Regions from separate parts of the Homo sapiens genome. Here all the other regions are linked to region 2. The links come from fine-mapping of genetic effects on gene expression. A gene starts in region 2. Each other region holds a variant in brackets. All regions are shown on one strand. Distances are from middle to middle. Region 1 overlaps LOC124900647 (nascent polypeptide-associated complex subunit alpha, muscle-specific form-like). Region 2 holds the start of RNF212 (ring finger protein 212). Region 3 overlaps LOC124900647 (nascent polypeptide-associated complex subunit alpha, muscle-specific form-like).

What was found. PIP is the estimated chance that this variant, and not a neighbour inherited with it, causes the effect.
Region 1: its variant is the best candidate, but not a certain one, in a credible set for the expression of RNF212 in esophagus muscle (GTEx, PIP 0.76).
Region 3: its variant is the best candidate, but not a certain one, in a credible set for the expression of RNF212 in subcutaneous fat (GTEx, PIP 0.84).

What each region holds. Positions count from the first base shown.
Region 1 is chr4:1,133,274-1,137,497 of GRCh38, forward strand. All of the region lies in intron 1 of LOC124900647 (nascent polypeptide-associated complex subunit alpha, muscle-specific form-like), which reads left to right. Among named protein-coding and RNA genes, the nearest start is that of RNF212, 22 kb to the left of the region's middle. The variant C/T (reference allele first, on the strand shown) is at 1,864.
Region 2 is chr4:1,111,765-1,115,988 of GRCh38, forward strand. RNF212 (ring finger protein 212) reads right to left here and starts at 1,800. Exons shown (of 10, transcript NM_001131034.4): 1 at 1,592-1,800. The coding sequence starts at 1,700. LOC124900647 (nascent polypeptide-associated complex subunit alpha, muscle-specific form-like) reads left to right here and starts at 1,875. Exons shown (of 3, transcript XM_047416477.1): 1 at 1,875-1,988. LOC105374344 (a long non-coding RNA gene) reads left to right here and starts at 1,875. Exons shown (of 3, transcript NR_134676.1): 1 at 1,875-1,988. It also overlaps the pseudogene TMED11P.
Region 3 is chr4:1,184,082-1,188,305 of GRCh38, forward strand. The region is part of intron 1 of LOC124900647 (nascent polypeptide-associated complex subunit alpha, muscle-specific form-like); the gene reads left to right. It also overlaps a transcript of SPON2 not described here. Among named protein-coding and RNA genes, the nearest start is that of SPON2, 14 kb to the left of the region's middle. The variant A/G (reference allele first, on the strand shown) is at 2,097.

The DNA.
Region 1 (4,224 bases), 22 kb after region 2:
TGCTCACAGCCCACAGTGTGTGGGAGCTCCACATCCACGTGTATGCTTATTTTCTGTTTTGTTCATTTTGGCATTTGGTGAGTGTGTAGTCACATCCCAGTGGGCTTTGCTTTATGTTTTTCCTGATGATTAACAAACTCAAGCACCTTCTCATCCACTTCCTGGCCATTCAGGTCTCCTCTCGTGTGAAGCCTCTTAATCTCCTGCCCATTTTTCTATCCTGTGAATACGGGATAGCCCTCTGTGACTGGTTGGTTGTTTTCAATGTAGACATTATGCACATTTACCTTACATTTATTCTTAGATGTGTGTCATTTTTCATCACCAAAGAGAAACGATTGAAAGGGCAGACACTTCCCCCAAGTCAGCATCTTTAGACACCATGAGTATTAGCAAACGGCCTGTGGTAAGGCCAGGTATCAGCAACACTCCTGGGGTGAGAGCACTTTGCCTTGGCCACAGAGAAGACAGTTGCCGTGACTTGGGCCCACAGGGCTGTAGTGGGCACTGCTGATGACCCCTTGCCCGTAAGGTCCCTTCCTGCTCTCTTAGCCACCCCTGGCTTTGGCATGCTTGACTGCAGCTTGTGGCCTTAAAGGAGGCCTTGGGTGCTGGAGCCATACCCTGCACAGAGGACAGGAAGAGCCTGAGTTGAGGTCTGTGCCTCCTCAGCCTGAGCCAGTGCCAACGAATGGGATGTGAGTACAAATGCCCGGCTCCTTTGCCTGGAGGTGGAACAAGCTGTGGCATATCTTATCCAGATTTTATTTTATTACTGTTTTTTGAGACGGCGTCTTGCTCTGTCACCCAGGTTGGAGTGCAGTGGCGCAATCTCGGCTCACTGCAAGCTCCGCCTCCCAGGTTCACGCCATTCTCTTGCCTCAGCCTCCTGAGTAGCTGGTACTACAGGCGCCCACCACCACGCCCGGCTAATTTTTCTTTGTATTTTTAGAGACAGGGTTTCACCATGTTAACCAGGATGGTCTCAATCTCCTGACCTCGTGATCTGCCCACCTCAGCCTCCCAAAGTCCTGGGATTACAGGCGTGAGCCACCGCATCTGGCCCTTACCCAGATTTTTAAAAAATGTTTTTAAAAAGTGTGGTAAAATATACGTAACAGAAAATTTACCATTTTAACCATTTTAAGTATACAATTCAGTGACATTAAGTATAGCCACGTTGTTGTGTAACCATCACTACCATCCATTTCCAGAATGTTCTCATCTTCCTGAGCAGAAAGTCTACCCACTTAAGCAATAACTCCCATCCCCCTGACTCCCAAGAGTCTCTATGTGGCTCTATGGATTTGACTCCTCTAGGTCCCTTACATGTAGTATCATACGGTATTTCTCTTTTTGTGTCTGGCTTATTTCACTTACCATAATATTTCCAAGGTTCATCTGTGTTGTGGCATGTAACAGAATTTCCTTCATTTTATGGCCGAATGATATTCCATTGTATGGATGGACCACATTTGTTTATCCATGCATTTGTTGATGCACACTTTCTGGCTGCTGTGAGCATTGATACATAAGTATCTCAGTCCCGGCTTTTAGTTGTTCTGAGTATGGATCTAGGAGCAGAATTGCTGGATCTGTAGTTATCTCATGCTCCTGGGCTCCTCCAGGGCTTGGGATGAGTCTGGGGTTAACCTGAAATAATGCCCTTGCTTGGCCTCTTCCTCTCCCTTCTCCTGGGAGCATTTCCTTAACAAATCACTTGCACTTGAATCCTTGGCTCAGGGTCTGCTTTGTGGAGCACCCAACCCAAGACAATCCAGAGAGGCGGTGAGGCCTCCCGTGAAGACAGGAGTGCGGTCTGTTTGCCCCAGTGGAATGATGGATGATGACCCCCATTGAACT[C/T]GCCCTCGTCTTCCCTGTCTAGTCGCTAAGACTTGTACTTTGAAAAATAGACAAAACTACGGGTGTTTTGCAGAATGCTTGAGATCAGGAGACCCTTTGAAAGGGAGCATCCAGGAGCACATGTTTTCGCTGATTAGTTTTGAATTGTAAACATTTTATGAACAGTCTGCTGCATTATGATCACTGTGCTTCATGGTGATTCTCCCTTTTTAACAGTCCCTGCTTTTTATAAGGGACTAACACATTTTTTTTTTTAAAGTGCACCAAGGACTAGAAAGCAAGTGGCTTTAAAGGCTTTAAAACTAAAACTTGGCCAGACACGGTGTCTCACGCCTGTAATCCCAGCACTTTGGGAGGCCAAGGTGGGCAGATCACCTGAGGTCAGGAGTTTGAGACTAGCCTGGCCAACATGGTGAAACCCTGTCTCTAAAAAAATACAAAAATTAGCTGAGCATGGTGGTACATGCCTGTAATCCCAGCTACTAGGGAGGCTGAGGCAGAAGAATTGCTTGAACCCGGGAGGGGGAGGCTGCAGTGAGCCAAGATTGCACCACTGCACTTTAGCCTGGGTGACAGAGCGAGACTCCGTCTCAAAAGAATAAAAAAACAAAAACAAAAAAACTGAAACTCACTAGGCAGGTGGGAAGAACGTACACAGTTACCCACCACCAGCGTCTTCCCTCCCTGTTCCTCTCATCTCTACCTCTTAAATTTACCATCAAAGTTGCTTTATCCGTTTTTTTTTAATTCAAGACAATTGAATTTATTGTTAAGGGACATTAATAAGAAGGACTAAGAGAAACAAGATAAAAAATACAGAATATATTTGGCTTAGGAATTTCCAAGTAAGTTTACAGGGCAAGGATTTCTTACCCCAGGTTTGTCAGCTGGCACCGTTGGCAGATGCGCAAGCCCTGTATCTTCCCCCTCTCAGTGTCCAGTTGGGGAATGCAGGCCTTTCTCTGCTTCTGAAGCAGCTTCTCTTTCTTTCAGAGAGAGCTTTGAGCCAGAGTCAGAGCCACACCTGCGTCTCTAGTAGTCTTAAGCTACCCAGAGGCCAAGGGGAAGAGAGGGTGGGAACCCACACCGACAGAGCACCTGCAACATGTCAAGGGTGTGCCAAGTGCTCTGCTGCTCCAAGGCTCATGTTATCTTCAGTTTACAGAGAAGGAAACAGACTCAGTCACCCAGCTATTAGGCAATTAAGGTGGATGTCATAGCTTGTGTTTTTGTCGACAAAGCCTGTTTTCTATCCTAAGTAGTCTCGGCTACCTCCACTTGGGGAAGATGGAATATCAATCTCTTGCAGACTATTTTTAGTCCTAATGAGAAAAAACAAACTTTTAGGTAGATTTTGATGACTGGCTCTAAGGTCATCTCTCTATCTCTCTTGAACTTACTTTCTTTTTCTTGTTTTTTGTTTGTTTGTTTGTTTGTTTGTTTAGACAGAGTCTCGCTCTGTTGCTCAGGCTGGAGTGCAGTGGCACCATCTCAGCTCACTGCAGCCTCCACCTCCTAGGTTCAAGCAATTCTCCCACCTCAGCCTCCTGAGTAGCTGGGATTACAGTTGCCCACCACCATGCCTGGCTAATTTTTGCATTTTTAGTAGAGATGGGAGTTTCACCATGATGGCCAGGCTGGTCTCAAACTCCTGACCTCAGGTGATCCACCCACCTCGGCATCCCAAAATGCTGGGATTATAGGCGTGAGCCACTGTGCCTGGCCTCATTCTTCTAAATAAGGTTCATAACAGCTGAGTAGGAAACACCCCCTAAACATCTTTTTGTTATTAAAAGCAACATTGATTTGTGTACCCCTGTAACTCCAGTAATATTTATTTTCTTAAAGTCTATTTTATGCTATCTTTTTGTTCTTATTTGCGTGGTATGTCTTTTTCTATTCTTTTACTTTCAGTCTTTCTGATATTTAAAGTTTTCTTTTGGAAATAGCTGTTCTTTATTTTTTGTTTTTTTAATCTAGTCTGACAATCTTGGTCTTTTAATTGGAGTGTTTTGCCCATTTGCACTTCATATAGTGTAAAATATATTTAGGTTTAAGTCTACCATATTGCTATTTGTTTTTCATTTGTCCTATTTGTTCCTTGTTCCTTTATTCCTTTCTTGCCGTTCTTTGGATTAATCAAGTTTTTTTTTTCCATTTTTCTCTATTAGCATATTAGTTATGCATTCTTTTAGTACAGTATTCTTTTATTGATTACCTTGGTAATAATATGCATCCTTGTTGCGATACCTTCTTCCTTAAATTAGCGTATTTACTACTTGCTGAACATTGCAAGAATCTTTCAGCTGTTTAACTGCGTTTACCTGCCTTCCTCCTTTGTGCTATTGTTGTCGTATATTT
Region 2 (4,224 bases):
AGATCACCGAAGACAGGAGCAAGAAGATTCACAGTAGCATTATTTCTGCAGCCAAATCTGCAAACAACCCAAAGGGCCATGGACAGTGGAAACGATGAGTAACTTGGGGTGTATCCATACAATGGAACACCACACAACAATGAAAGTAGATGAACTACAGTTACATACAAATACAATGATAAACTTTGCTAATCCCACATTTCGGGAGGCCAAGGCCGGTGATTGTTAGAGGACAGGAATTGGAGACCATCCTGGGCAACAAAGGGACCCCATCTCTGTGAAAAATTAAAAAAATCAGGGGTGCGTGGCTGCACATGCCTGTAGCCCCGCTACCCTGGAGGCTGAGGTAGGAGAATCACTTGAGCCTGGGAGGCGGAGGCTGCAGTAAACCGAGATCCCGCCACCGAACTCCAGCCTGGGCGACAAAGCTGAGCTCTGCCTTGAAAGAGGCAAAGAGAAGGAAGGGAGAAAAAGGAAGAAAGATGGGGAGCCACAGAAAGCGGCTTTGCTGTAGGGCTGGTTGTAGGGCTGCATTCACTAAGGCTCCATGGGTCTAAGGCCAACTCCGAGGATGGAGGTCAGCACAGCTGGCGTCCCCTGGGGCTGGAGGGCTGTGAGCCACCGGCACCCAGCTGGCTGCTTTCACGGGGAAGTTCGCTTGGTAAAAGCTCACTGTGTTTTTGCTTTTGTTCTTGCATAAACATCAGTTCAACACAAAATTTTCACAGAAAGAAAAACGCCTCCCTGACAATGCGACTGTCCACTTGACACCAGGGCCCCGCGCTGCCCATGGAATAGGGCCAGAGTCCTCCACTGGCGTTAAGGTTGCCGCCTGCCCGCTTCTCCCCCAGGTCCTCCAGGCGGACCCGCAGCCTGCAAGCCAGAGCCCCCGACTGACAGGACTCGTGGCCCGACCCCTGTGTCCCCCTCATCTTGCATCCCGCTCCCCCCGGCGGCCCCTCCCCTCCACGGCCCCTTCCTGCCTGCGGACCCTCCCCCACGCCCTCCTCCCCTGGCGTCTCCCCTCCCCCCATCTCCTCGGTATCCCCCTTCCCCCCCAAGCCTTGACCCCCCACATCCCCCACCTTGCCCCCCTCCTCTGGCGTCCCCTTCCTCCCTGCAGCCCCCCACCACCTCCGGCGTCCCCTCTTTCCCCACCCTCCCGCAGCCCCTCACTCCCCCGCTCCCTCCCCACCGCTTCTCCAGTGTCCCCCTCTCCCCACGGGCCCCTCATCACGCCCGCGGCCCCCACTCCCCGGTGGCCCCTCCTCCGAATACCCCTACCTCCGCGGCCTCTCACCCCCCCATGCCCCCCCCGCTCCATGCGCCGTTTCTCCCCCTCGGCCCCCCACGCGCCCCCGCGGCCCCTCCACCCCAGGTCCCCCTCCCCTCAGAGTTCCCCTGCTCCTCGCGGCCTCTCCCCTGGCATCCCCCTCCCCCTGCCCCCTCCCCCTTCTCCACGCGCCCTCTCTCCTCCGCAGCCCCCCACGTGCCCCCATGGCCCTCCCACCCAAGTCCCCCATCCCCCGGAGTTCCCTGACCCCCTTGCCGCTCCCCTCCCCTCTCCAGCCTGCGTTCGGGAAGCCCTGACCTTTGCCGAGGCAGGCGTCGCAGTACACGTGCCCGCAGTTGGTGAGGCTGAAGCACGACGTCCTGTGGGGCGGCTGGAAGCAGCGATTACAGAACACCCAGTTGGCCATGCCAGGCGGGCGACCGCAGCGGCGAGGCCGGGCCCACGCGAAGCCCACGCAAGGTTGGGACCAGCCTCCCCGCGCAGGGCCCGAAGGCGGGCAGCTCTGCGCCTGCGCAAAGTCGACGGCAGCCCTGCGCCCGCGCACTGGAGCTCGCGCCCTCCCGCCAACCTCGCGGGTTCTCCCGCAGCACCTGGGAGGGCGCGTGTGACTCGTCTCCCAGGTCGTTTGGGCTGGAGTAGGCGGAGGAACGCACCGCGAGCACCAACGTCCCGCCCCTGTCTTGGCGGTCCTCAGGTGTTTTGTGGAAGCCGGGCCTGGGTGGCGGGCGCGGGGAATGGCGGCTGCGCTGAGGAGGCGTCGCGGCGCGACAGCAGTGGGGGAGGGGGAGGGGGAGCGCCGAGGGCGGGGGATGCGGGCCAGGCCCACCTTGAGGGCCGGGAGCTGGGCCGGAGGCCAGGGCGGCCAGGGTAGTGCGCTGGGCGAGGCAGGGGAGGAGTAGGGGAGAGTGGGCGTGGGGGCCCTGGGGGCCCGGGGAGCGGGATAGGAGGGAGGGAGGGATAAGTGGGTGTGGGAGTTGGGGTGGGAGCGGGAGTGGGGATGTGGGAGTTGGGGTGGGTGTGGGGGCGTGAGGCGGTGGGGGTGGGGTGTGATGAGGCGGTGGGGGTGGGGGGGGCAGTTGGGGGTGGGGGCCAGGCCGCGCTGCACGCTTTGGGACTAGTGTCCAGGTGGCCGCTGGCGCAGAGACCTCAGCACGGGAGGCCTGAGCCTGCTTCCCTCTGAAACGGAAGGCGTAGCTCGGGAAGGACCTCTGCTGCTTCCAGGTTCCAGCATGGGGAAGTGACTTTTTATAAAATTGTCCTCTGCGTGGTTTTGAGAGTTTCCACCCGCTGGGACGCTGCAAAGCTCGGATCGAGAGGCTCAGGCAAGTGCTTGTGCCGGGAGAGCGCAGGGTGAGCGCTCCCGGTAGCTACGGGCCAAGTGACCCCTGCGCCCCGAAAGATGTGAGTAAAATACAGCTGTTTCCAGGGCCTCGTATGAAAACCTTCTTAGTAATTTTATATTGATTACATGTTAACATGATATTTTTGATATATTAGGTTAAATATATATCAGTAGCGTTGATTTTACCCTTTCAAAAAATCCTTTTCAATGTGGAGACTAGAAAACTTAGAATTACGTATGGGCTGGGTGCGGTAGCTCACGCCTGTAATCCCAGCTACTCCGGAGGCTGAGGCAGGAGAATCGCTTGAACGAGGCGGAGGTTGCAGTGAGCCGAAATCACACCACTGCACTCCAGCCTGGGCAACAGAGTGAGACTTCGTCTCAACAACAACAACAGCAAATTAGAATTATGTATGTAGCCCACTTTTATTTCTGTTAGACAGTGCTGATCTCTACCAAGTTTAAAATAGCAAGACCAGCAACGTGGCAAAACCCCGTCTCTACAAAAAATACAAAAATTAGCTGGGTGTGGTGGTGGGCCCCTGGGGTCCCAGCTACTCGGGAGGCTGAGGTGGGAGGATTGCTTGGGCCCTGGAGATCGAGCCTGTGGTGAGCCTGACGGCACCTGTGCAGCAGAGCGAGACTCAGTCTCAAAAATAAGTTTAAGAATAGGATGAGGTGCCTAATCTATCAAATTCAGAAGCTGCATTATAAAAGCATTCTCTCAATGTTATAATGATATAACGTTAATCTCAATCTCTGGTATCTTTGAAATCATAAAAATAATACACATATATGCAGGTATTTTGATTTATTAACTCAAACATTATGCAGATTATTTGTCCTTATTGATAATATTTTAAACAATCTTCTTAGCTATAAAGAAGTCTTTCAGGTACTTCATTTGGAAAATTCCGACTGAGATAAAGATTAATATTTGTGCAAAAGCCCACCATAAAACATTGCTATTTGTATCTTCACTGGTCGTTCGAAAATTTTCTTCACGGTCCTATGCGGAAAAGAAGTAGGTTTAGTGTCATAAAGTACTTAACTCACGATTTTGAGGGGAGGGTTGTTGTGGGCATTCAAGGTATTTAATATTACCCAATTAATATCTTACACCAACGTATCCGTGCAGTCTGCTTTTCTAAACCAGAATCTGTTGCTTAGCCAAGTATAAGAGAGTAAAAATCAACCTTATAAAAGATGGTTTTGTATTTTGGTGTAAAATATCAGGAATTTGACCTATTCGTATATTTTATTTGCTACCATCAGGCAAAGCGAATATTACCCAATAGTGGTAGATTTCATCATTTGAGTCCAGCCTTTATGCCAGGCATTAGGCCAAGCACTTGCATGCCTTATTTGCTTGTCACACCTGTCCTTATCTTCCTGTTAAGGAAACTGAAGCTTAGAGATGACACAGATTACTGACAGGTAGTTGAGATTTAAGCCCATATCTGACCAATATCCACTTAGTGTAGTGACTCAAAAAGCACCTAATGTCATAAGAATAAAATTGTGATTTGGAAAGTGAGCATACGTGAGCCTCTACAAATACATGGGATGCATTTGGAAGCATTTATTC
Region 3 (4,224 bases), 72 kb after region 2:
ATTCTCCACCTCAGCCTCCCAAGTAGCTGAGACTACAGGTGCATACCACCATGCCCAGCTAATTTTTCGTAGAGACCAGGTTTCACCATGTTGCCCAGGCTGGTTTCAAACTCCTGAGCTCAAGTGATTCACCCACCTCAGTCTCCCAAAGTGCTGGGGTTGCAGGCATGAGCCACTGCAACTGGCCAGTAATTACTTTAAATGAAAATGAATTAAACTCTCTACTCAAAAGACAGAGATTGGCAGAATGAATACACACACATAATTCAGCTCAATGCTGTCTACAAAAATCTTGATTTAAATTCAAAGACACAAGTACACTGAAAGGGAAAGGGTGAAAAAAGGGATTCCAAGCAAACCAAAACCGAAAGAGAGCAGCAGAAAAAACCACTCTAAAATTCACATGGGCTCTGAAGGGACCGCAAGTAGCCAAAATAATCTTTAAAAGAAGAACAAAGCTGGGGGACTCACACTTCCTGATTTCAAAATCTCCTACAAAGCTGTAGTAATCAAAATCTAATAATCTAGTAAATTTACTACAAGGTTCCAGTAATCAAGAATACAATAAGCTGGCCAGGCACGGTGGCTCATGCCTGTAATCCCAACACTTTGGGAGGCTGAGGCAGGCAGATCACGAGGTCAGGAGTTCATGACCAGTCTGGTCAACATAGTGAAACCCGTCTCTACTAAACAAAAATTTAAAAAATTAGCCGGGTGTCATAGTGTGTGCCAGTAATCCCAGCTACTTGGGAGGCTGAGGCAGGAGAATCACTTGAACCCAGGAAGCGGAGGTTGCAGTGAGCCGAGATCTTGCCACTGCACTCCAGCTTGGGCGACAGTGCAAGACTCTGTCTCAAAAAAAAAAAAAAAGAATACAATAAGCAATAAGCTATGCTCTATCTTTATGCCAGAAATAAACTCTCACATATATGGCCAGATGATTTTTGACAAAAGTGCCAAGACCATTCAATGGGAGAAATAATAGTCTTATAGTCTTTTTTCTTTTTCTTTTGACACAATCTCACTCTGTTGCTCAGGCTGGAGTGCAGTGGCACAATCTCGGCTCACTGCAGCCTCCGTCTCCTGGGTTCAAGCAATTCTCCTTTAGCCACCCGACTAGTTGGGATTACAGATGTGCACCACCACCCCTGGCTAATTTCTTTTTTGTATTTTTAATACAGACTGGGTTTTGCCACATTGGCCAGGCTGGTCTTGAACTCCTTACCTCAAGTGATCTGCCCACCTCGGCCTCCCAAAGTGCTGGGATTACAGGCATAATCCACCATGCCCGGCCAGAATAGTCTTTTTGACAAATGGTGTTGGAAAACCTGGACATCCACATGCAAAAGAATGAAGTTGGTCAAGCCTGTGATCCCAGCACTTTGGGAGGCTGAGGCGAGCGGATCACCTGAGGTCGGGAGTTCCACACCAGCCTGGCCAACATGGTGAAACCCCGTCTCTATTAAAAATACAAAAATTAGCCAGGCATGGTAGCACATGCCTGTAATCCCAGCCACTTGGGAGGCTGAGGCAGGAGAATTTCTTGAACCTGGGAGGCGGACATTGCAGTGAGCTGAGATCGCGTCACTGCACTCCAGCCTCGGCAGCAGAGTGAGACTCCATCTCCAAAAAAAAAAAGAATGAAGTTGGACCTTTTGCCTGACACTGTATGCAAAAATTAACTCAAAACTGATTAAAGACCTAAATGTAATACCTAAAACTATAAACTTCTTAAAAGAAAACATAAGACAAAGCTGTACAACTTCAGATTTTACAATGATTTATTGGATATGACACCAAAAACATGGGCAACAAAAGAAGAAAATAGACAAAGTGGACGTCATGAAAATTAGAATATTTGTGTATCAAAAGGCAACATCTGGCCGGGCGTGGTGGCTCACGCCTGTAATCCCAGCACTTTGGGAGGCCGAGGCGGGCGGATCACGAGGTCAGGAGATCGAGACCATCCTGGCTAACACGGTGAAACCCCATCTCTACTAAAAATACAAAAAATTAGCCGGGCGTGGTGGTGGGCGCCTGTAGTCCCAGCTACTCAGGAGGCTGAGGCAGGAGAATGGTGTGAACCTGGGAGGCGG[A/G]GCTTGCAGTGAGCTGAGATCGGGCCACTATACTCCAGCTTGGGTGACAGAGCGAGACTCCGTCTCAAAAAAAAAAAAAAAAGGCAACATCAACAGAGTAAAGGGGCAACTCAAAAGATGGGAGAAAATGTTTTTTTTTTTTTTGAGATGGAGTCTCCCTCTGTCACCCAGGCTGGGGTGCAGTGGTGCAATCTTGGCTCACTGCAACTTCTGCCTCTCGGGTTCCAGCAATTCTCCTGTCTCAACCTCCCAAGTAGCTGGGATTGCAGGCGCATGCTGCCGTGCCCGGCTAATTTTTTGTATTTTAGTAGAGACGGGGTTTCACTGTGTTGCCCAGGCTGGTCTCAAACTCCTGAGCTCAGGTGATCCACCCACCTCGGCCTCCCAAAGTGCTGGGATTACAGGTGTGAGCCACTGCACCCAGCTGATGGGAGAAAATATTTACAAATCATTTATCTGATAAGGCACTAATATCCAGAATATATAGAGAACTCCTAAAACTCTAAGACAAAAAACTCAATTTAAAAATGGGCAGAGGACATGAATAGACATCTCTCCAAAGATGATCTACAAATGGTCAATAAGCAAATGAAGAGATTCCCAACATCATTTATTACTGAGGAAATGCAAATTAAAACTATAATAGGACATCACCTCACACCCATTAAGATGACTACTATCAAAAAAACCCCAAAATAACAAGTATTGGCAAGGATGTGGAGAATCTGGAACCCTGGAGAACTATTGATGGGAATATAAAATGACACAGTTCCTATGAAAAACACGATAAGAGTTCCTCAAAAAATTAGAAATAGAATGACTGTATGATCCCACATTGCAACTGTGGGTATATACCCAAAATAATGGAAATCAGGGTCTTGAAAATATATTTGTATACTCAAGTTCATAGCAGCGTTATTCACAACAGCTAAAATGCAAAATCAGTTCAAGTGCCTACCAATGAACAAACAGATAAGCAGAATATTATTTAGCCTTAGAAAGAAAGGAAATTTCACCTTACAAAGGAAGGACATATGCTATAATATGGATCACCCTTGAGGACATTATGCTAAGTAAAATAAGCCAGTCACAAAACACAAAGATTGTGTCATTCCACTTAGATGAGGTACTTAGAATAGTCACATTCAGAGAGACAGACAGCAGATTGGTGGTTGCCAGAAGCTGGGGGGAGCAGAAATGGGGAGTTGTTGTTTAATGAGTGCACAGTTTCAGTTTCACAAGATGAAGTGTTATGGAGATGGATGGGGTGACGTTTATACATGATGAATGTTTTTAATGCCACTCAACTGTACACTTTAAAATGGCTAAGATGGTAAATTTTATGTTATATGTATCTTTTTTTTGAGGCAAAGTCTTGCTCTGTCATTTCTTTTACTATACCTTTTAAGGTGTCTTTTTAGCAGATGCCCTAGGGATTACAATTAATATCTTAATTTATAACAACTGATCTCAGATTAATTATAATTTAATGTCAATGGTATACAAAAACTTTGCGCATATATAGCTCTGTTCCCTCCTCCTCCTCTGTGCTATCACTGTCATATAATTTAAATGTTTACACATCATTTGACTACCAGCACAGATGTCTAATCATCACTCTCTGCAGTTGTCTTTTAAATCAGGTAGGAGAAAAAAGAGCTACACACATAAACTATTTATTTTTACACTGCCCTTTGAAAATGTTTTCCCCAATTTTTTATTGTAATAAAATACACATAACAGGCCAGGCACAGCAACACACGCCTATAATCCCAGCACTTTGGGAGGCCAAGGCTAGTGGATCTCCTGAGGTCAGGAATTTAAGACAAGCCTGGCCAACACGATGAAACACCGTCTCTACTAAAAAATACAAAAAAAAAAAAATTAGCCAGGCGTGGTGGCGGGTGCCTGTAATCCCAGCTACTCAGGAGGCTGAGGCAGGAAAATTGCTTGAAACTGGGAGGAGGAGGTTGCAGTGAGCCAAGATCACACCACTGCCTGGGCAACAGAGCAAGACTCCGTCTCAAAAAAAAAAAAAAAAAAAAAAAAGAAATGACAAATATGTTGAAATGAGACACTAGGAAATATCTATTTAACACCAAAGAAGGCCATATGGAAACAGAGGAAC